Regions from separate parts of the Homo sapiens genome. Here regions 2, 3 and 4 are each linked to region 1. Evidence: fine-mapped expression QTL. A gene starts in region 1. Each other region holds a variant in brackets. All regions are shown on one strand. Distances are from middle to middle.

Region 1 (5,000 bases):
TGGACAGGCCCCCGCCCTGCAGCGGCCCACCAGCCAACCCTCACCTGAGCACACTTTATCCATTGATCCTGCATGGCTTCCTCATTTCCCCTCTGATGGATGAACTCCTAGGCATCCCTCAAAACCCAGTTCCCACATCACCAACTACAGGCATCCCCAGAAAGAGCACTTCGCATGCTCTTCCTGTGAGCAGTCCTCTGCTACCCTTCCAGATGGGCCTTCCTGAGGGGAGGAGGGTCCTCTCTGGGACCTCCAGGCCAGGCAGAGACCCCTGACGACCTCTGTGGAATGGATCCCAACATGGGTCTTTCCACAGCCAGCTTAGACGCTCTCCCCCCAGGCCACCTTTCTGGCCTCCCGAGGCAAGGGCTGGACACCCACAAAGGGTTGCTTTGCACTGATTGTCTTAAGCTACACTTAGAATGGCAGGAAGGCCCACTGCCTTGTGTCTAATGCCAGGACAGGGAAGACCACACCTTACCCAAAGAGGGAAATGCCCCAAGTACTTAGCAGGATGGAAAGCAGGCCAGACTCGAGGAAGGCACCGCAGGACTCCGAGGGCAGGGCTCCGAGCCGCGCACGCCTCAGGCACAGGGGGCTCTGACGACACTGAGTGGGCGTGGCCTGGAGGCAGAGGGCTGGACTCAAAGACCTCTGGATGTCCCCCCACCCCCACACGGGCCTGAGCCCCTCCAAGGCCTGCTGCTGACAGAGTCAGACAGCTGTCCAGAGCCATGTGTAAAAATACATCTGTGCTCACACAGGGTGGTGTACGTCTGCACAGAAACGTATACACCAGGCCAGCACAGGGCTGCCTGTGGGGGCGGAGGGACCCCGACTTCCCACAGCCTCCGTACCTGCCGCCTGCCTTTACCATAAGCACATATTCTTGCTACTATTATTAAGTCACAACTTAAAAAAAAATACTCTGTTTTCGAAAGGGCTCCTCCATCTGCCTCCAGAACCCTGGTGTATGAGAAGTCTACACAGCTCCCGGGAGAGGCAACCGGACCCCCACCAACGGACTCCGTCCGCCCTTCGCTCGGATGAGGGACTCAAAGCAGTCAAGAAGTGGCCACCTGGAGCAAGGCCGAGAGACCCAGGAGTGAATGTGGGGCGGCCTCTGGCTGCAGAGCAGGGGCCCAAGCTCACCCGCTGACCAAGGCAGCACTCAGAGGCCGTCCCGACAGGACCAAGCTCGCTAGCGCCCCAGGATACTCAATCTAAGGGGCAAGCCCCAGCTGCCCTCCAAGCCTTGGCCTCTGGGATGGGCGGGCAGGACCTCCAGGGCCCACCCAAGACAGGAAGCAGTTCCGGGGCCCAGGAGGGTCACAGTCCTTTGTGGCTAGCCTGGGTACCCCGCCACCACGTACAACTTTTCGTCCGTGGGAAACGAAGTCTCCTTCCGGGGCCCTCCCACAAACTTGAAGGCCGGCCGCGGCGAGTCTTTCTCCAACCCCGGGGCACCTCCGCCGGCTGCCTCGCTGGCCCAGCGCCCGGGGAGCCCCACGGCCCGCAGGGGCACCCCGAGCCCCAGCTCCAGGCCCGGCGGCGTCCCTTCTCTCGGGTCCCGGCCTCGCCCGGCGGAGCGGCCTCCCCAAGGTCATGAGGGAGGCTGGGGCCGGCAGCCTGCACCCCCGGCGCCCGGCGTGGGGCCGCCCTCCCTTGGCCGGGCCCGCGCGCCCCGCGCCCTCCCCGCCCAGGCCCGCTCGGCCACTTCCTGCTCCCGCTCCTCCATTCTGGCGGCGCCGCGGCTCGCGCCCCGGCCCGACCGGCCGCGAACAAAGCGGCCCGGCCCGCGGGGAGGAAATCCAGGCCCGGGCGGCCACGGCGGGCGGGGACTCACCGGGCCGCCGCGTCCGGGCGCGAGCGCGGGCCTAGCCGGGCCGCGGCCTCCGGCGCCCGCCGCTCCGCATCCCCGCGGGCCGGCGCTGGGCGGGGCCGGGCTGGAGGCCGCGGCGGGCGGGGGCGCTGCTCGGGGCCGGGCCTCGCGTGCCGCCGCCGCTCGGTGCCCGGTGCCCAGCGCTCGGTGCTCGGCCGCCTGCTCCCGTCTTCGGGCCGCGCTGCGTGCGCTGGGCCAGCCGCCTGCCGCGCTCGGTCCTGCCGCCGCCGCCGGCCCGCCCTCTCCCCGCCCCGCGCCCGCCCCGCGCCCGGAGCCGCCCGCCCACATCCGCCTCCGCCGCCCGGGGCGTCCCCACCGCGCGGCCGGCGGCGAGGGCGGAGCGCGCTCGGGGAGCGCGCGGCCGGGCTGAGGGGCAGCTCCCGACGACCTGGGGCCTGGGCTGGGCCGCTAACGGAGCCCGGCCACCAGCCAGCCCGTCCCGGGGCCACGCCCTCTCTGGCCTCAGTTTCCCCGTCTGTAAAGTGACCCGGCGCTTCTGGGCTCGCTCTGCCGTGACCCTAGCAGAAGGGGCCCGAGACAGGTCAGGGACGAATCCCGGACTTCTGCCTCCGCGCGCGGGGCGGGGGTGGCTTAGGTTGACTTTCAGGCTGCCCCACTCTGGGGGGCGTGGAGGGGGCGGCCAAGAGTGACCTAAAAGGCCCAATCCCAAGACCTTGTGCCTCTGGGGGAAGTGCGGGAGGATGCCAGGACAGGAGGTCAGTTGGAGGTGGGCCTCCAAGGAGCAGGAAGGCTCCGAGGGGAGTCAACCATTCACCTAGGTACTGGCAGCTACACTCACAAAAGGGGGACTTTGCTGGGGAGTGGGAGAAGAGGGGCACACCTTGCCTGGCTCCCACCTTGAGCTGGGAGCAGACACCAGACAGAGGAGGAGCGGTGTCTAGGGTGGGCTGTGACAGCTGACAGCCCAGAGCCCTCCCTGCTGGGTGGACTTGGTCAGCCCGGACACCCAGTCCGAAGTCCACTGGGAGGCAGATGGCCCGGGTATGGAATGAGTAAGTGGGACACAGACCCCTTTCTCCTGGACACTCACAGGAGAGTGCAGGTGACTGCCACCCCGACCCCTTCCTAGCCAGAAGTTCCTCCGACAACTGCCCCTCCCCCATTCCAGAGGCCCACAGTTGATAATAACCCTTTTGTGAAAGACAGACTCTTGTGAGTTACCTTCCTGAGGCTGCTAAGTATTGGGGTTGGGGGAGCATTTTTATTTTCAGCCAGAGTGAGTTCAGCTGGCAGCAGGGGAGGGGGTGGGAGGAGATGCAGACAGAGGCAGCAGGTTCGGCCCAGTGCTCAGGACAGAGTCTGCAGCCAAAACTCGGGCTTCATCCCTGCCTCTTGGGGCTGACCAAGAGAAGGACTCTCTCCCCCTGCATGAGGGCACTCGCTCCTCAGACAGGGGACTCCCCATTCCTGCCTCTCGCCTGAGCACCTCTGCTCCCTCCCAGCTCAGACTTTGTAACCCCAGGAAGGGCCCACCTCCAGGGGGCCAAGTCAGAGGCCCAGTGGTCTGCGCCGCTTGGGTGGGATACCTGACACAAGGGTTGCCCCCAGAGCCTGGGCGTCTGGTGTCTGTCTCTCACCCAGCAAACCTGCACCATGAGCCACCTGGGGCTCCCTCTGGGACTGTCCCACCTGCCCACTGCTCCCCGAGGAAGAGTTCCTGGTATCTGTCCACCATCCTGGGCTCTGCCATGCAAGGATGGAGGAAGGAATTCAGGGAGGAAGCAGAGGGTAAGAGGGCCATGAGACAAGGCCAGCAAGTGGCCGAGGCTTGGGGATGTGGGAGGGAGCAGGGCACCCTCTCATGGAAGAGGCAGTGACATTGCGGGCTGTTCTTGAAGTGGTTGGACCTCTTGCTTATTTTGCACTGGCTGTCTCCAAGGAGGCCTCCCAGTCTTCCCAGCCTGGTGCCCTGGCATCTGCTGGTGCCTGCAACCCACTGTGGGCCCCACACTCCAGTCCTGTCTTCACCTTGGCATGAACTGCCCTCCCCCAAGACGGGGATCTCCCAGTGGGCAGGGCCATCTCCCTCTCCTCCAGCGTCCCAGAGGGAAAGCAGAGTCCTCTCTTCAAGAACACCCCCTCCCACCCCAGACAGAATGGTCAGGAGAGAACCCAGCCCCACGGCTGCTGCTGGGACTGCTGAGGTGCTCTGTGGCCAGATGTTTCCGACAAAAACTGCTGCACCAGGGAAGGGCCCGACGGCTGCCTCCTCCCAGAGCTCAGGGGCCTCCTGCCCTGTCACCTTCTGCAGCTGCTGGCCGGGGGCAGGACTCGAGGGCCCTGGGCTGTGTAGGTCCCAGCAGCAGCTGCAGGGCGGGGCCTCAGGGCAGCTCCCAGGCCAGATGGCCGCCTGAGTCTGCAGAGGTTCTGCCTGAACCACCACCGCCGCGACAGTGGCTGTGTGACGGTGTCCTGTCATTCCTGCACTTGAGACCCAGCCAGTCACAGGGGCTCTGAGGACTACAGGCTGGCCAGGATCCCAGCACCAACTCTGGGCGGTCTCTGCCTGGAACAGCCCCCCTTCCCTGATCGGTGTGGGGCAGGAGGGACTTGAACCCAGACATCCCGACCTGAGAGGGATAAGGAGCTTCTCTCCCACTGTCCCCTCCCCTTCATCTAGCCCATTCCTAGCTGGGCCCTCCTTCCAGGTCCTACCCTAGGCTCCTGAAGGCAGCATCCTGACCCTCCCTGTGTACCACAACCCCCATTAAGTGTCCAGGCTCTCTCTGTCCCGCCAGCCAGGCAGGGCAGGCTAGGGTGCTTGCTCCCAGCCTGCAGTGGGGAGCTGTCAGCCTGTTGCCCAGAGCCCCAGTGTGGCAGGCCACCCCTACTTGCTCTGAAGGTTCAGGGGCTGGGGGTGTGGGCAGGCAGGGCTGGAATGTTGCCACAGAGGAGTCAGGATTAGGGATGGTGGGACCATCGTAATCACTCACAGAAGCAACCGTCACACATTCACTCAACAAACATTTACTGAACACCCACTTGCGTCCTGCCAACTTTTAAGCACCAAGTGACCAAACAGCCCCTTCCCTTTCAGAAGGTGCTGGAATATCCCACAATCACAGGACACCCGGAATGGGCTGGAAAGGAGGGTATG
Region 2 (5,223 bases), 31 kb after region 1:
TGGATGGATGAACAGTGGGGTGGTAGATGGGTAGATAAATGGTTGGATGGACAGTAGGATGGTGGGTGGTTGGATGGATGGATTGATGGATGGATGGATGGATGGAGGGTTAGATGAATGCATATTGGCTGGATGATAGAATGGTGGATGGATAGATGGGTGGTAGGATGGTAGATGTTTAGGTAAATGGTTAGATGGGTAGTAGAATGGTGAATGGTTGGATGGATAGATTAATGGATGGATGGTAAGATGGTGGATGGTTGGATGAATGTTTGGATGGATCGTAGGCTGGTGGATGGTTGCATGGTTGGGTGGGTGGATGTATGGTTGGATGGTGAATGGTTGGATGAATTGATGGATGGATGGTAGGATAGGTGAATGGTTGGATGGATAGGGATGATTGGATGGATGGATTGATGGTGGACTGATGGATGGATAGATGGTTGGTAGATGATAGGTTGGATGGACAGTTGAATGGTTGGATGGATTGATGGATGGTTGGTTGGGTGGATGGATGGATGGTTGGACAGATGGTTGAATAGATGGTATGATGGGGTTAAGGACAGATGCATAGGTGGTGGAAAGATGGATGTTTAAAGATGGTTGGCTAGGAAGATAATTGGATGGATGGAGGATCCCCCAGGGTTGCTACCTGAGCAAACTCTGGGAGGTTTGGAAATCTTGATCACAGGGGTCTGTGGGCCTGTCCTGTGGATGAGAAGTCAAGACTGGAGAGGCTTTGACCTGGGCTGGTTTTAGGGATAGGGGCCACTGTGAGGACAGAGATGCAGAGGCACAGACAAGGAACTGGGTGGAGGTGCACTCTGCAGGATTTCTGGTGTCTGATGGAGATGGTTATTTGTGGACTCCAGATGATTCTAGAAGTCCCCAAGACTCTTCTGGGTGGGATTCATGAAGGCAGGTGGCAGGTTCCCCAGCTTAAAAGCCAATAGAAAAGTAAAGAATCGGGCCGGGCACGGTGGCTCACGCCTGTAATCCCAGCACTTTGGGAGGCCAAGGCGGGCAGATTACGAGGTCAGGAGATAGAGACCGTCCTGGCTATCACGGTGAAACCCCATCTCTACTAAAAATACAAAAAAATTAGCCAGGCGTGGTGGTGGGTGCTTGTAGTCCCAGCTACTCAGGAGGCTGAGGCAGGAGAATGGCGGGACCCGGGAGGCGGAGCTTGCAGTGAGCCGAGATGGTGCCACTGCACTCCAGCCTGGGCGACAGAGTCAGACTCCGTCTCTTAAGGAAAGAAAAGAATCGGAATGACAGATACCGGCAGTCTGAGGATTGGCGGAGATGGCCTCGCTGACTGGGAATATTTGAGCAGAGGCAGGAAATGGCTGGGGCGGAGGGACTGGCAGGAGCAGAAGCCTGATGTGGGGCTTGGGGCGTGCTGGGGCGTAGCGAAGTGGCAGGAGATCCCGGAGCACCGGCAGGGAGGGGAGCCAGAGGGAGAGGAAGGTGTGGAGGCCTTATGGAGCTCTCCTGGGGTCTTGGATGTTCACTCCGAGTGCGATGGGAGCTGCAGGAAGGTTTGATCCCCGGAGAGACCAGATCGGGCTTGAGCTCTGACCGCAACCCCTGGCGCTGGTTGGAGGGCACACGGGCAAGGCGGTGGTGGGAGCGCTGCGGCAGTGCAAGACCACAGAGCAGGGGGATATGCGGGGGGTGGGCTGGGAGGGCTAGGTGGGGCGTCTGACGAGGCTGGGGAACTCCTGTTCTTAAGCTCAGGCCGGGGTGAGCACTGTCCCTAGGAGGGTGTGGCCAATCCTCGCCCTCAAGGCACTGCGGCATGAATGAAGCGCTTTAAAGGGAGTTCCCAAAATGAAATCCCTAAGCGAAAGGTCTGGTCCTTCTGGGAAGCGGAGCAGACTGCGACAGCTGGCGTTGGAGCGGGGGGCGGTCCCAAGTCATCCTCAGGCCACCCGTGGCCAGCCCCAAGCTCTCTGCGGCGAGGAGCGCTAGCCCCAGAGCCTGGCGTCCTGCTGGGGAGGCGCCTTTCCCGCGGCGCTGGGCGCCCTGGGCATCCGGGAGGAGCACCCGTCCCGCCCTCTCCCCGCGCCCGGCTCCGCACTCCCCGCCAGCCCTGCGCCCCGCTCCCCGCGCGCCCCCTGGCGGCAAACTTCGCAATGGCTCCCGCCGCGCTCTGCTTTTCGGGGTTGCCGGAGGGGCGGGGCTGCCGGAGGGGCGGGGCTGCCGGAGGGGGCGGGGCTGCCGGAGGGGGCGGGGCTGCCGGAGGGGCGGGGCTCGAGTGGGAATGCAACCCTTGGACACGGTGGATCCTGGGAATCTAACCTTCCGTCCCGGGGCTGATGAGCTCCAGCCCTGCCCCAGGAACTGTGCTGGGGGCCCCTGGGGATGGGGACGCAAGCTCAGAGGGCGGAGACCTCGGGCGCCCCGGCTTCGTCCGCAAGGCGAGACGGGCCGCAGGGGACTGCTAGGGTCTGCAGGGGGGTCTGCGGGGGTGAGGGGGCGGGTGGGCTCGGAGGATGGCCCCGGGCTCCCAGGGAAGCTGGAAGGGCGTCGGGGGAGGTGACGGCGCGGAGACCTCGGACTCTCAGTCCTGCAGGGGCCGCGGACACAGGTGGGGAGGAGTGGGGGAGTTTTTCCCTGGGAGAAATGGGAAGCGTCGAAGGATTTTAAGGAGTGCGGCTGGTCGGGTTTGCATTCGGGGAGGTCGCTTTGTCTCTTGAGTGGAGAATGAGGAGGTGGCAACAGCAGGGGAGTCACCGGGAGGCTGCTCGGGTCCAGCTCAAAAACGCCAGGCCCGCCCCCGCCCCGCAGGTCCGCGGGAAGGAAGGAAAAGGCGTTGGGGATGCGTAGGAGGCAGAGGCCTTGGTGGTCGATCCGGTGTGGAGTGGGGCAGGGGCTGCGAGGAGGGCGCCCAGGACTGGTATCAGTGAACAGTGACGGTGGGGCAGGGCGGTGACCTTAGCACCAGCGCTTCGGTGGGGGGGAGGAAGCACCTGAGCCGCGGAGAAAGGCCTGCGTGAGGTGGGCACAGGCTGGCGTTGAAGCCCTGGGGTGGACTCACGTCCAGGGGAGGGCGGTGCTTCACACGTCCCAGGCACTGTCTTGTGTGGCCCCAAGTGCTGTCTGAATCTCTCCTGCGTCTTGGGCC[C/G]CAGCACCAACAGCCGTCGCCCTGGAGCCAGGCAGCAGCCTTAAGCTTCCCTGGGAGGCTGACTGGCTGGGAGCAGGGAGGTCCCATCGGGGAAGTAGGGGCGTGCAGGGGGCTTGGCGCCTGCAGTCCTGGAGGGGCAGGGCAGATGATAAGGCTAAGTACCTCCTGTCCTTTGCTCAGCCAGCCACTAGGAGGAGGCCGCAGAGAAGAAGCCGCCAGGGGCTGGGGGAGGCCAGGGACGGGGCAGGGAGGAGGGGCTGGGCTGAATGCAGGTGCCCCAGGAGCTGCGGGCTCTCCTTCCACAGGTTCGTGTCTGGTACACGGCTGGAGAAGGCAGGGAGGGTGGGAGGAGCCTGGCTTGGAGAGAAAGGGCTGGCCGGAGACACCAGAGTGCTCAGGGCAGGGGCGGGAGAGGTGGTCCCTCAGGCCTCAGTGGCAGAGGCATGGGGATCCAGGGCTGAGAGTGAGTCTGTGGTTCATGGGGTTACCAGAAAGGGGTCCTGATCCAGATCCCAAGAGAGGGTTCTTAGATCTCACGCAAGAAAGAATTCAGGGCGAGTCCACAAAGTAAAGCGAAAGCAAATTTATTAAGAAATTAGAGGAATAAAAGAATGGCCACTCCATAGAGCGGGCCAGAGGGCTGCTGGGTGACCATTTTTATGGTTTTATTTTTATTATATGATAAACAAAGGGTGTATTATTCATGACTCTCCTTTTTAGACCATAAGGGGTAACTTCCTGATGTTGCCATGGCATTTGTAAACTCTCATGGTGCTGGTGGGAGTGTAGCAGTGAGGACGACCAGTGGTCACTCTTTTTTTTTTTTTTTTTGAGACAGAGTCTCGCTGTGTCGCCCAGGCTGGAGTGCAGTGACACGATCTTGGCTCACTGCAGGCTCCGTCTCCCGGGTTCACACCTTTCTCCTGCCTCAGCCTCACGCCTGTAATCCCAGCACTTTGGGAGGCCAAGGCAGGCGGATCACGAGGTCAGGAGATTGTGACCATCCTGGCTAACACGTGAAACCCCGTCTCTACTAAAAATTCAAAAAATTAGCCAGGCGTGGTAGCGGGTGCCTGTGGTCCCAGCTACTCGGGAGGCTGAGGCAGGAGAATGGCATGACCCTGGGAGGCAGAGCTTGCAGTGAGCTGAGATCGCGCCACTGCACTCCAGCCTGGGCGACAGAGGGAGACTCCATCTCAAAAAAAAAAAAAAAATTTTAAAAGACCAGGTGCAGTGGCTCACGCCTGTAGTCCCAGCACTTTGGGAGGCCATGGTGAGTGGATTGCTTGAGCCCAGGAGGCAGAGGTTGCAGTGAGCTGAGATGGGGCCACTGCACTCCAGCCTGGGTGACAAAACAAGACCCTGTCTCAAAAAATAAAATATTTAAGCTTATTTTGTGTGTGCTATGGTTTGAATGTTTGTGTCCATCCAAAATTCATATATTGGAACTTAAGTTGCAAAGTGATGGTATTAAGAGGTAGGGCCTTTGGGAGGTGACCAGGGCAGGGCGGACGGGATTAGTGCTCTTACACAAGGGCTTGAGGCAGCGGGTTCTTTTCTTTAGGCCTTTTGGCCCCTTCCTCTATGTGAGGGCACAGCAAGAGGGTGTAATCCCTCCCAGACACCACATCTGCTGGCCTTGACCTAGGACTTCCCCGCCCCTAAAACTGTGAGGAATACATTTTTAGTATTTATAAATTACTCAGTCTGTGGTATTTTATTTATTTATTTGAGATGGAGACCAGCCTGGGCAACATAGTGACACCTCATTTCTTTAAAAACAACAACAAAAAAATTAAGGGAAAATCAGCCAGGCATGGTGGCATGGGCCTGTAGTCCCAGCCACTGGGGAGGCTACAGTGGGAGGATCCCTTGGGTTGGGCCTGGGAGTCCGGGCCATGATGATATCACTGCACTCTAGCCTGGGTGACACAGCAAGACCTTGTCTCAATTAAAAAAAAAGAAAAGAAAAGAAAAGAAAGGCATAGATCTTTACTGCAAGACGCCCACAGAATGCTGTCTACATGCCATGCCTCTAATTCCTCTTCTTTCATTCTCTTTTTAAAAACTTTTAAGATTGAGATATAATTCAC
Region 3 (5,223 bases), 54 kb after region 1:
AGAAAGAGAGAGAGAGAGAGAAAAAGAAAAACCAGGGCCAGAAGCGGGGGCTCACACCTGTAATCTTAGCATTTTGGGAGGATCACTTGAGGTCAGGAGTTCAAGACCAGCCTGGCCAACATGGCAAAACCCCATCTCTAATAAAAATACAAAAATTAGCCAGGTGTGGTGGTGGGTGCCTGTAATTACAGCTACTCAGGAGGCTGAGGCACGAGAATCTCTTGAACTCAGGAGATGGAGGTTGCAGTGAGCTGAGATCTCACCCCACTGCACTCCAGCCTGGGTGACAGAACGAGACTCTGTTTCAAAAAAAAAGAGGGCCAGGCGCGGTGGCTCACGCCTGTAATCCCAGCCCTTTGGGAGGCCGAGGTGGGCAGATCACGAGATCAGGAGATCGAGACCATCCTGGCTAATGCGGTGAAACCCCGTCTCTACTAAAAATACAAAAAATTACCTGGACATGGTGGCGGGCGCCTGTAGTCCCAGCTACTGGGGAGGCTGAGGTAGGAGAATGGCGTGAACCCGGGAGGCGGAGCTTGCAGGGAGCCGAGATGGTGCCACTGCACTCCAGCCTGGGTGACAGAGCAAGACTCCGGCTCAAAAACAACAACAACAACAACAACAACTTGTGGTTTAAATATATTGTATCTCTACCGGTATTTTGTCCATTTAGTCTATCAGTTACCGAGAGAGATGTTTTAAAATTTCCCACAGTAGTTGTGGATTTGCTGCTACTTTTTTAGTTCTATCAGATTTTGTTTTCTATGTTTCAGCGCTGTGTTATTAGGTGTCTACAGATTTATGATTGTTAGATCTTCCTATTCAATTGACCCTTTTATAATTGTGAAATGGTTTTATCGTCACTGCAACCTCCGCCTCCCGGGTTCAAGTGATTCTCCTGCCTCAGCCGCCCGAGTAGCTGGGACTACAGGTGCCCGCCACCACACCCAGCTAATGTTTTGTATTTTTAGTAGAGACGGGGTTTCAACACGTTGGCCAGGATGGTCTCAATCTCTTGACCTCATGATCTGCCTGCCACGGCCTCCCAAAGTGTTGGGATTAGAGGCACAAGCCACCACGCCCGGCCAATATTACTAAATATCAAGTCAATGTTCACTTTTCCAATTGTTTTGTAAACGTTTGTTTGAATTGGAACCCAGTTTTGCCACTTTGTGACTGGTTGATAAGTCAGGTCTTCTTAATCCACACTTTTCTTATTCGTCCTTTCTTCCCCTCTAGCAAAGGAAACCAGGCTGTTCCCCTGTAGCTCACCAGCCTGGATTTTGCCAGCTGTGCCCCCTGCTACTGTTTAACATGCATCTGTGCCTCTGCATTCCCTGTAAGCTGGTAGTTTGTATTGAGGAGTTGGACTCCATTTCTTAACTTCTGGCTACTGACAGCTTCCTTTTTTTTTTTTTTTTTTTTTGAGACGGAGTCTCGCTCTGTCTGTCGCCCAGGCTGGAGTGCAGTGGCTCCATCTCGGCTCACTGCAAGCTCCGCCTCCCGGGTTCACGCCATTCTTCTGCCTCAGCCTCCTGAGTAGCTGGGACTACAAGCACCCACCACCACGCCTGGCTAATTTTTTTGTATTTTTAGTAGAGATGGGGTTTCACCGTGTTAGCCAAGATGGTCTTGATCTCCTCACCTTGTGATCCGCCCGCCTCGGCCTCCCAAAGTGCTGGGATTACAGGTGTGAGCCACCACACCCGGCCTAAAAATCCAAGTTTTAGGCACCAGCTACTAGTGCAGTAGCCACGTGTGGTTAGAGCCTCCAGTTCTTTACAGTCTCATTGTGTGGCCCAGGCTGGAGTGCAGTGGCACAGTCATACATAGTTCACTGCAGCCTTGAACTGCCTGGCTCAAGGGATCCCCCGACTCAGCCTCCAGAGTAGCTGGGACTACAGCTGCACACCACCACATCCCACTAATTTTATTATTTTCTGTAGAGATGAGGTCTCACAGCCAGGTATGGTGGCTCATGCCTGTAATCCTAGCACTTTGGGAGGCCAAGGCAGTTGGATCATTTGAGGTCAGGAGTTGATTGTGCCACTGCACTCCAGCCTGGGTGACAGAGTGAGATCCTGTCTCAAAAAAAAAAAAAAGAAAAAAAAAAGATTAAAAATGAGATGAGGTCTCGGGGTCTCAC[T/G]ATGTCTCCCAGGCTTGTCTCAAGCTCCTAGACTCAAGCGATCCTCCCACCTCGGCCTCCCTAAGTACTGAGATTACAGGCATGAGCCACTGTGCCTGGCCCGTGTGTGAGAAATTGAGTAGGGGTGGGAAGGTTTATTTGGTTTCTAGCTTGCTGGAGTGTCACATTCCAAGGACCTTACCTGAAAGGCTGAGTGTTTTTACAGGGTCCCTTCTCCTTGATGCCTGGACTCCAATTCCTTTCTCCATAACACCATCAGACAGCTAAAGCTTTAATTTCATGGGCTTTCAGCTGCCATTTTCTGCTTGACTTTGTAACCTCCTACCCAAAACAGCTTAGAGATTGGCAAATATCTTAATGGGAAAAGAGGCACAGAAGATTGAATGGTAGCTTCCAATGCCAATATTTGCCTCCCCAGGCCTGTGAGAATCCCAGAAGCTCTGAGCTGCCACTTTCTGCTTGGTCTCTAAGTACCTGCCAGGCTCATCTCAATGTGATTCCCTTTTCTCAGGTTCTCAGTCCCTCAAGTCCTGGCTGCCTTGGTTGCTCTCCAATGCCTTCAAACAGCTGTTATGTTGTTGCTGTTGTTTTGAGACAGAGTCTTGCTCTGTCGCCCAGGCTGGAATGCAATGGCTCGATCTCGGCTCAATGCAAGCTCCACCTCCTGGGTTCACACCGTTTTCCCGCCTCAGCCTCCCAAGTACCTGGGAGTACAGGCACCTGCCACCACGCCTGGCTAATTTTTTGTATTTTTAGTAGAGACGGGGTTCCACCATGTTGGTCATGCTGGTCTTGAACTCCTGACCTCGTGATCCACCCGCCTCAGCCTCCCAAAGTGCTGGGATTACAGGCGTGAGCCACCGTGCCCGGCCTGTTGTTGTTTTTAAACTAGTTTTTAGAGTTGCTTTTGGTGTCTGATACTTGTTATTTACCACAGCCACAAGTAGGTGTTTTTGCTTTGTGGGAAGCTTTATTTTTGAGAGCATAGAGGTTCCTGATTACTATAAAGAATTAAATGGGGCCGGGCGCGGTGGCTCACGCCTGTGCTCCGAGCACTTTGGGAGGCCGAGGCAGGCAGATCACCTGAGGTCAGGAGTTCGAGACCAGCCTGACCAACACGGAGAAACCCCGTCTCTACTAAAAATACAAAATTAGCCAGGTGTTGTGGTGCATGCCCGTAATCCCAGCTACTTGGGAAGCTGAGGCAGGAGAATCGCTTGGACCTGGGAGGTGGAGGTTACAGTGAGCCAAGATCACGCCATTGTACTCCAGCCTAGGCAACAAGAAAGAAACTCCGTTTCAAAAAAAAAAAAAAAAGAATTAAATGGCCTAATAAATGATAATGAGTACTTATAGATTTGCCTGGTAGACAGGAAGAATGATCTACTGGATGATTTGATTGATATAAGAAATTATTAAAATTAGGGCCAGGCATGGTGGCTCACACCTGTAATTTCAGCACTTTGTGGGCTAAGGCAGGAGGATCTATTGAGGTCAGGAGTTCAAGACCAGCCTGGGTAACATAGCAAGACCTCATCTCTACAAAAAAACTTTAAAATTAGCCAGGCACAGGCCAGGTGTGGTGGCTCACACCTGTAATCCCAGCACTTTGGGAGGCAGAGGCAGGTGGATCACCTGAGGTCAGGAGTTGGAGACCAGCCTGGCCAACTTGAAAACCCCATCTCTACTAAATATACAAAATTAGCCGGGCGTGGTGGTGCACGCCTGTAATCTCAGCTACTCGGGAGGCTGAGGCAGGAGAATCACTTGAACCTGGGAGGCGGAAGTTGCAGTGAACCAAGATCATGCCATTGCACTCCTGCCTGGACAACAAGAATGAAACTCCATCTCAAAAAAAAAAAAAAAAAAGTACAAAGACTGCATGTGCATGAGTGAAAAAACACAAGGGGAAATGTAGTGATATGAAAGGAATATAAAATCTGACACATGAAACAAATAGTTCTATCTGTGTTGTTTTGGATAAAATGAAAAGGCATTTCGCTTACTAAAAAGGTGATATTTCAATATTCTAAGAAGACTTTGATTAGGAATATAGCAGAAGACTTTTCTGCAACTATCCATCAAAAGATCAGATTCTGGCCAGGCGCGGTGGCTGGCACCTGTAATCCTAGCACTTTGGGAGGCTGAGGCGGGTGGATTGCCTGAGCTCAGGAGTTTGAGACCAGTCTGGGCAACACAGTGAAACCTTGTTTCTACTAAAGATGCAAAAAATTAGCCAGGCGTGGTGGTGGGCACCTGTAGTCCCAGGTACTCAGGAGGCTGAGGCAGGAGAATCGCTTGAACCTGGGAGGCGAAGGTTGCAGTGAGCCAAGATCACGCCACTGCACTCCAGCCTGGGTGACAGAGCAAGACTCTGTCTCAAAAAAAAAAAAAAAAAAAAAAAGATCAGATTTCATCTCCCTGAATATAGAAGGGATGTTATCTTACCAGCCCTGGCAGGCCACTACGCATATGTGCATACGTTACCATGTCTGTGAGGCATTGCAAGGAATACATTTTTTTAGCCACTCAACACCTGTAGATGTCACCGTCTCGGCAGCCAACAGGAAGACCCCATCTCCAGCCGCTGTTTTCCACTATGACCCTCAGCGAGTGTTTTCCACATTTAACCACGTGGGACCCACGGCTCTGGGGATGGCTTTGTGCCATCTTGTGTTTCTTCAGACCCTGCCTGAGTTTCAGGAGAATTTGCGTGACCATGGGAAAGGCTACTGGGCTGTCCAAATGCTACCGTCTCTCAGGCACCTGACCTCGGGCATCTGCTCCCTTCTGCCGCTTCCTGAGGGAACTCTCGGAAACCCCGCAGCAGGCCTCACTCAGGAGAGGCTGAGGGAAGAGATGGGCAGTGCCACCAGAGGCCCCTCTGAGAGGCGTTTCAACAGCTTCACCTGTGCTGACAAAGCAGCCGTGGTCAGCACCGCCGTTAAGGCGGCCATCAGTGGCGGCTGGCATGCAGCGTGTACACGAATTAACACATCAAACAGAAAAACTGCCAAAAGCAGTAAAGCGAATAAGGATGGCTGGGTGCTCCTCACTCCTCCAATGCCAGTGCCCCA
Region 4 (5,124 bases), 23 kb before region 1:
ACACTGCAGGCCTCTCTGAGTGTGGAGAGAAAAGGGAGTGGGCGGGGGCAGGCAGTGGCCCCTCACCTTGGTCAGGTGGTGTGATGGTGATCATCTGGGCCGTGAACTCCTCATCAAAATACCTGGTGTCAGTCTCCGACGTGACCTGGGGCTTGAAGGGTGGGCTGAGCTGCAGAGGTGGGCAGACGGGACAGTCATGAGCTTCGCTCCCCACTCCCAGCACACCCTCAAGTGTGCTCAAGACCTTCAAAGCACCTGGATCTCCAAGGGGTCTCCAGGCAGGACTGATGTCAGAGAGCAGCAAGCCACCAGCCCCCCACAGAGGCAGCTCTGGGAGGGAGGGACATGAGGGGTGCAGGAGCACGGAGACAACCCTCAACAGCTGAGACGCAAAGCTGCCCTCACAGCAGCCCCAGCAGGCGACAGGAGGTAGTGCAGCCCAGCTCTGAGAGACCCTCCCTGCTACCAGGAGGTGATAACTTTATTTTTCCTTTTTCTTTCTTGTTTTCTTATTTTTCTTATTGGTCTTCTTGTAAATTGGGAAAGAGGGAGACTGTGGAACAAGGTGCACAGGATGAGCCCACCCTGCCTCCATGGCTCAGGGACTACAGGACCACAGCCTGCTGGCATCTGGCTGCAGACAGGACTCTCAATGACCCAGGATGAAGGGTGACTATAAGGTGATGTGCACACGTGAGGAGCTGCCAGAGAGCCCCTCAGGTCCCACAGTCAAGGACCCCCTCAAGCACTGCCCCACCCCAGAGTCTGGGCTGGGCACCAGCATTGTCCATTGTCAATTAGCAAGGTCTCTGGTCAAGGCTGGGCAGAGGTTGAGCACTGCCCAGGCCCCCCATACCCTTGGAGGGCAGGGCAGGAGGGTGGCAGGCCTCAAGGCAGGAACGGGGACCAGGACCAGGGCACCCTGTGTTAATGGGAGAACAGGTGCCCAGCTGGGTCCCAGGGCTGCCCAGCCCGACCAGCTGCACACAGCCTAGGACAGGCATTCAGGGGAGGGGCAGGCTGGGAACGGGGCAGAAGCACACCTGGTGACAGGGCACCCAGCATCTCAGAGTGCAGGCTTCCGAACCCAGCTGGCAGACCCCATCAGCTGGGGTGATGGCCAGGGCTCCTAGGGTCCCTGAAAGATGAGCACCCAGGATGGCGACTCATGCAGAAAGAGCTGCCTCCCTCCAGGGCGGACTCCCCCATGTGCCAGAAAAGTAGGTGCTGTCCCTGTCCCTGCACAGCCAGAAATAGGGCTGGGCTCTCCTTGCGGCAGAAGGGATTGAGGTCAAACAGGAGGAACTCGTGGAGGCCAAGGGGCAGCACCCCTGGTCCACCACCAGCCAGCCTTCACTGCACAGCGTCAGGGAAGGGAACCCCAAGGCTGGCACTCAGAGTGTGACACACCTCCGAGGGGAGGAGGAAACTCAGAGTGTGACACACCTCCGAGGGGAGGAGGAAATGAGGACCAGGCCAGTTTCCTGGTGGAACCCGGCAGTGCCAGAGCCTCTGAGCACCAGGCGCTGAGGTTGGTGCAGCAAGGCCCTCCTTGTACCAGGACTGCAGCAGGCTCCTGAGGTGAGGGCGAGTGTGTGGGAAATCTGGCGAGCGTGCCACGTGCATGCGTGAGTGTGGATATGTGGGGAGCATGCGTGCGCGTGAATATGCGGGGAGCAGCCGCACCTTCTTCTCGTACACGTGCTGCCACACGATACCGGCAAAGAAGCGATGCTGCATGATCTCCTTGGCGTCCTCGGAGCCCCCGCCAAGCCTGCAGGCAGGAAACAAGGCCACAGTGTCGGTACCGCCACCTGCCCAGGCCCTGGGTTCAGGCCCCTTCCTCCTGTGATGTAGGGCCCGCCAGACAGGACGTTCCGGGGCCAGGGAGGGGAGCCGGTGGTGCAGCGTCCCTGAGCAGCTGTGGGTAGCAAAGCACCACAGAGCTCACGGCAGGGCAGGGGCTTCCTGAGTGGGTGGGTGCAGGCTGCAGGGTTGGGGACAGAGGCCCAACTGACCCCGGCCTGCCCGCCACTCTGCTTGGGCCTGAGGCTTTGGAGATCAGCCCTGGCCAAGGACATCAAGCTTTGGCTATCAGTGTAGTCTGGGAGGTGCCAGGACCGCCTGGCGCAGGGGCAGGTGCAGCCTGGGGATGAGGGGATGGAGGTGTAGCCTGTAGCTGGGATGGGCGGCCCTCACCTCTGCTTGGGGTCCTTCTTGAGCAGCCCTGAAAGCAAGGACTTGGCCTCGGGACCAAGCGTGCGCGGGAAGCGGATCTCCTCCATGAGGATGAGCTCAAAAAGCTTCTCATGGTCCTGGTTGTAGAAGGGCAGGCGACCGCACATCATCTCGTACATGACCACGCCCAGCCCCCACCAGTCCACTGCACGGCCGTAGTCATTGTCCTCCAGCACCTGCACGGGTGGCAGATGGGCAGGACTCGGCATCAAGGGGTGTCCGGGACACTGCCGGGGGAGGTGTGACGTGCTTGGGGCACAGAGAGGACACAGCATTGCGTGTGCTCAGGACGTGGGGACGCAGCAACGCGTATGCACGCAGGTGGGGCGCACACCTCGGGGGCCAGGTACTCAGGTGTGCCGCAAAAGGTCTTCATGGTGGCACCGTCCTTGATCCCCTCCTTGCACAGCCCGAAGTCTGTGATCTTAATGTGCCCGTCCTTGTCCAGCATGAGGTTCTCCAGCTAGGGGAAAGGTGGCCTCAGGTCAGTGCCGCCAGGCCCCCAGGGCCCTGCCCCCCTGCCTGCCCGCCAGCGCACCTTGAGGTCCCGGTACACCACGTTCTTCTCCGAGTGCAGGTAGTCCAGGGCTGACACAATCTCAGCGCCATAGAAGCGGGCCCGGTCCTCGGAGAACACACG[C/T]TCCCGGGACAGGTGGAAGAACAGCTGCGGGAGGCGCAACCTGAGGCACAGCCGTGGCTCGGGCCTCTGCCCCCATGGCCTGCAGGGCTGGGGTTTCTCAGACCGGGTCTCGGCATTGCACAGGGAAGGGACCAGCCACCAGAGGGCACGGGGGCCTGGAAAGTCTCAGAAGCCCTAACTCAGCAGGAACAAGTCACCCCACAGCAGGCAGCTGCCTGGGCAGGCATCACACCACCCACCCAGCAGGGAGCACCGTCTGGTGCCATGGAGAGTAGCCGAGGCTCCGGGAAGGACCGGCCCCACCATGGGCGGCCCACAGGCCGCGAAGTCCATCCCCCGCAGCCCCAGCCCCTACCTCGCCCCCGTTGGCGTACTCCATGACAAAGCAGAGGCGGTCGTGGGTCTGGAAAGAGTACTTCAGGGCCTGCAAGGAAGGGGAGCTGGAACTGCGGCCCCACAGGCAGGACGGCAGCCCCGCACCACGCTGCCCGACACCACGCTGCTTGATACCACGTCGCCTGATACCACACCGCCCGTAGCCCCACACCACACTGCCCGACACCACGCTGCCTGATACCACACCGCCCGATACCACACTGCCCCACACCACACACCCCATCACACTGCCCCACACCATACACCCCCACATCACACTGCCCCCATGCCACGCTGCCCCACACCACACTGCCCCACACCACACTGCCTCATGCCACGCCACCATCAGGCTGGGCCCCGGCAGCCCCTGAGGTGCCAAGGAGTGTTTGAAAGGTGAGCAAGGTGGCCTGGGCTCAGGTCCTCCAGGGTGAGTTGGGACCTCAGCAGGGGACAGTGCTCCCAGCACCAGGGCCTTCGCAAAGGGAGGACACACCCTCCCAGGCGAGACCCACCCTCCCGCCTTCCACCACAGGCGACTGTGCTTTTAAAGCAAAGGCCCCATCTGCAGGAGAATCGTCCCCAAACACAGTGACCTGGAACTAACCAAGTGGCTGGACCCTGGCCCCCTTCACAGTAAATACCTCCTGGGCCAAGTCCCCAGAACAGGTTCTGCAGGACAGAGCCCGGGCCTCAACAAAAGCCTGGCAGGCAGGGCTGCAGGGCATGGGGAGCTGGGGCCTCCTGGAGCCTCGGCAGAGTGCAAGGAAGACCAGGGCCACCTGCCCCACCCACCTGCCCGCACACGGGAGCAGCGAGCACAGCCCCTAGCCCACACTGGGCACCTCCACAGCCTGACCCTCCAGGGCAGGCCTGTCTCACCAGCGGCGGAGTCCACGGTGTGTAAAGCCCTCACGTGCCCAAGAAGACAGGACATCGTCCCCTAGAGACAGCCCCAGGAGTCGCTACCTGGCCCCAGCCCTTCAGCCCCATCTGGGCTCCCACTCACTGTGAGGAAGGGGTGCCTGGAGTTCTGCAGGACGCGGTTCTCGGTGAGTGTGTGGGCCACCTCGTCCTGTAAAGCAGGGCTGGGTGAGCTGCCACCCCGCACCCTCATCTCCACCCTGCCCCACCGCCCCGGCCCCACCTTGGCCACGATGACTTCCTTCTTGAGGATCTTCATGGCGTAGTAGCGGCCTGTGGCCTTCTCCTTCACCAGGATCACCTTGCCGAAAGTGCCCTTGCCCAGCAGCTTCAGGTACTCAAACTCGTTCATGGTCTATGGGCAGGCACCAGGGTCAGCAAGCGGCGCTGCCAACAGTGCCCAGCTGGTCGGCATGCGTGGGGTGGCATGAGGGGCCCCAGAGTCGGAGGCAGAGCCAGGAGAGGCGTCCACTTCACACCTGGTGGCCTACTGGGCTCAGCGGGGAGTCCAGGCTTACAGGGAACACATGGCTGCGGCCCCAGCTCAGAGCATGGGGTTCAGGGAAGGGTGGGGTAACATTGCCCAAGCCTGGCAGGGCTCAGCAACCCCAGTTTTCCTCTGACATGGGGAAGAGGACCCACCTGGGAAGCAGCTGCGCCCTACATGGAAAACCGGCCTAGGTGGAGATGCCGTGGAGTGCTGAGTGTCTCCTGGGCCGAGCTGGGACCCCATGACCCACCCAGCCCTCCACAGTCCAAGGCAGCCCCAGGCACAGGCAGAAGTGGGGACAGGCCTCACCACGCGGTGCTTGGGCTTGGCCAGGGACACCTCCATCTCTTCAGCCCCTGAGTTGTCACTGGGTGAGCCCGACCGGAAGTCCATCTCCTCCTCCTCCTGCTTCTTGAGGCCGTCAGCCACAGTCTGGATGGCGGTTGTCCACTCCTCCCTG

Evidence for each region.
Region 2: its variant is fine-mapped to the expression of AKT1 in whole blood (TOPMed, PIP above 0.99).
Region 3: its variant is fine-mapped to the expression of AKT1 in whole blood (INTERVAL, PIP above 0.99).
Region 4: its variant is fine-mapped to the expression of AKT1 in whole blood (TOPMed, PIP above 0.99). The same link has a PIP of 0.9 or more in blood mononuclear cells, cerebellar hemisphere, cerebellum, lung, testis and thyroid.

What each region holds. Positions count from the first base shown.
Region 1 is chr14:104,793,638-104,798,637 of GRCh38, forward strand. It overlaps AKT1 (AKT serine/threonine kinase 1), which reads right to left and starts at 2,111. Exons shown (of 15, transcript NM_001382430.1): 1 at 1,847-2,111. RefSeq lists enhancers at 1-576, 577-1,218, 3,260-4,032, 4,033-4,805 and silencers at 1,483-1,802, 1,833-1,882, 2,063-2,422.
Region 2 is chr14:104,824,473-104,829,695 of GRCh38, forward strand. No RefSeq gene overlaps it. Among named protein-coding and RNA genes, the nearest start is that of VESTAR, 5.9 kb to the left of the region's middle. RefSeq lists a silencer at 2,075-2,244 and enhancers at 2,394-3,179, 3,180-3,965. The variant C/G (reference allele first, on the strand shown) is at 3,131.
Region 3 is chr14:104,847,084-104,852,306 of GRCh38, forward strand. No RefSeq gene overlaps it. Among named protein-coding and RNA genes, the nearest start is that of CEP170B, 16 kb to the right of the region's middle. The variant T/G (reference allele first, on the strand shown) is at 2,147.
Region 4 is chr14:104,770,679-104,775,802 of GRCh38, forward strand. It overlaps AKT1 (AKT serine/threonine kinase 1), which reads right to left. Exons shown (of 15, transcript NM_001382430.1): 6 at 4,974-5,121; 7 at 4,398-4,529; 8 at 4,260-4,325; 9 at 3,234-3,302; 10 at 2,777-2,902; 11 at 2,573-2,701; 12 at 2,200-2,414; 13 at 1,687-1,774; 14 at 67-169. Among named protein-coding and RNA genes, the nearest start is that of SIVA1, 20 kb to the left of the region's middle. The variant C/T (reference allele first, on the strand shown) is at 2,879.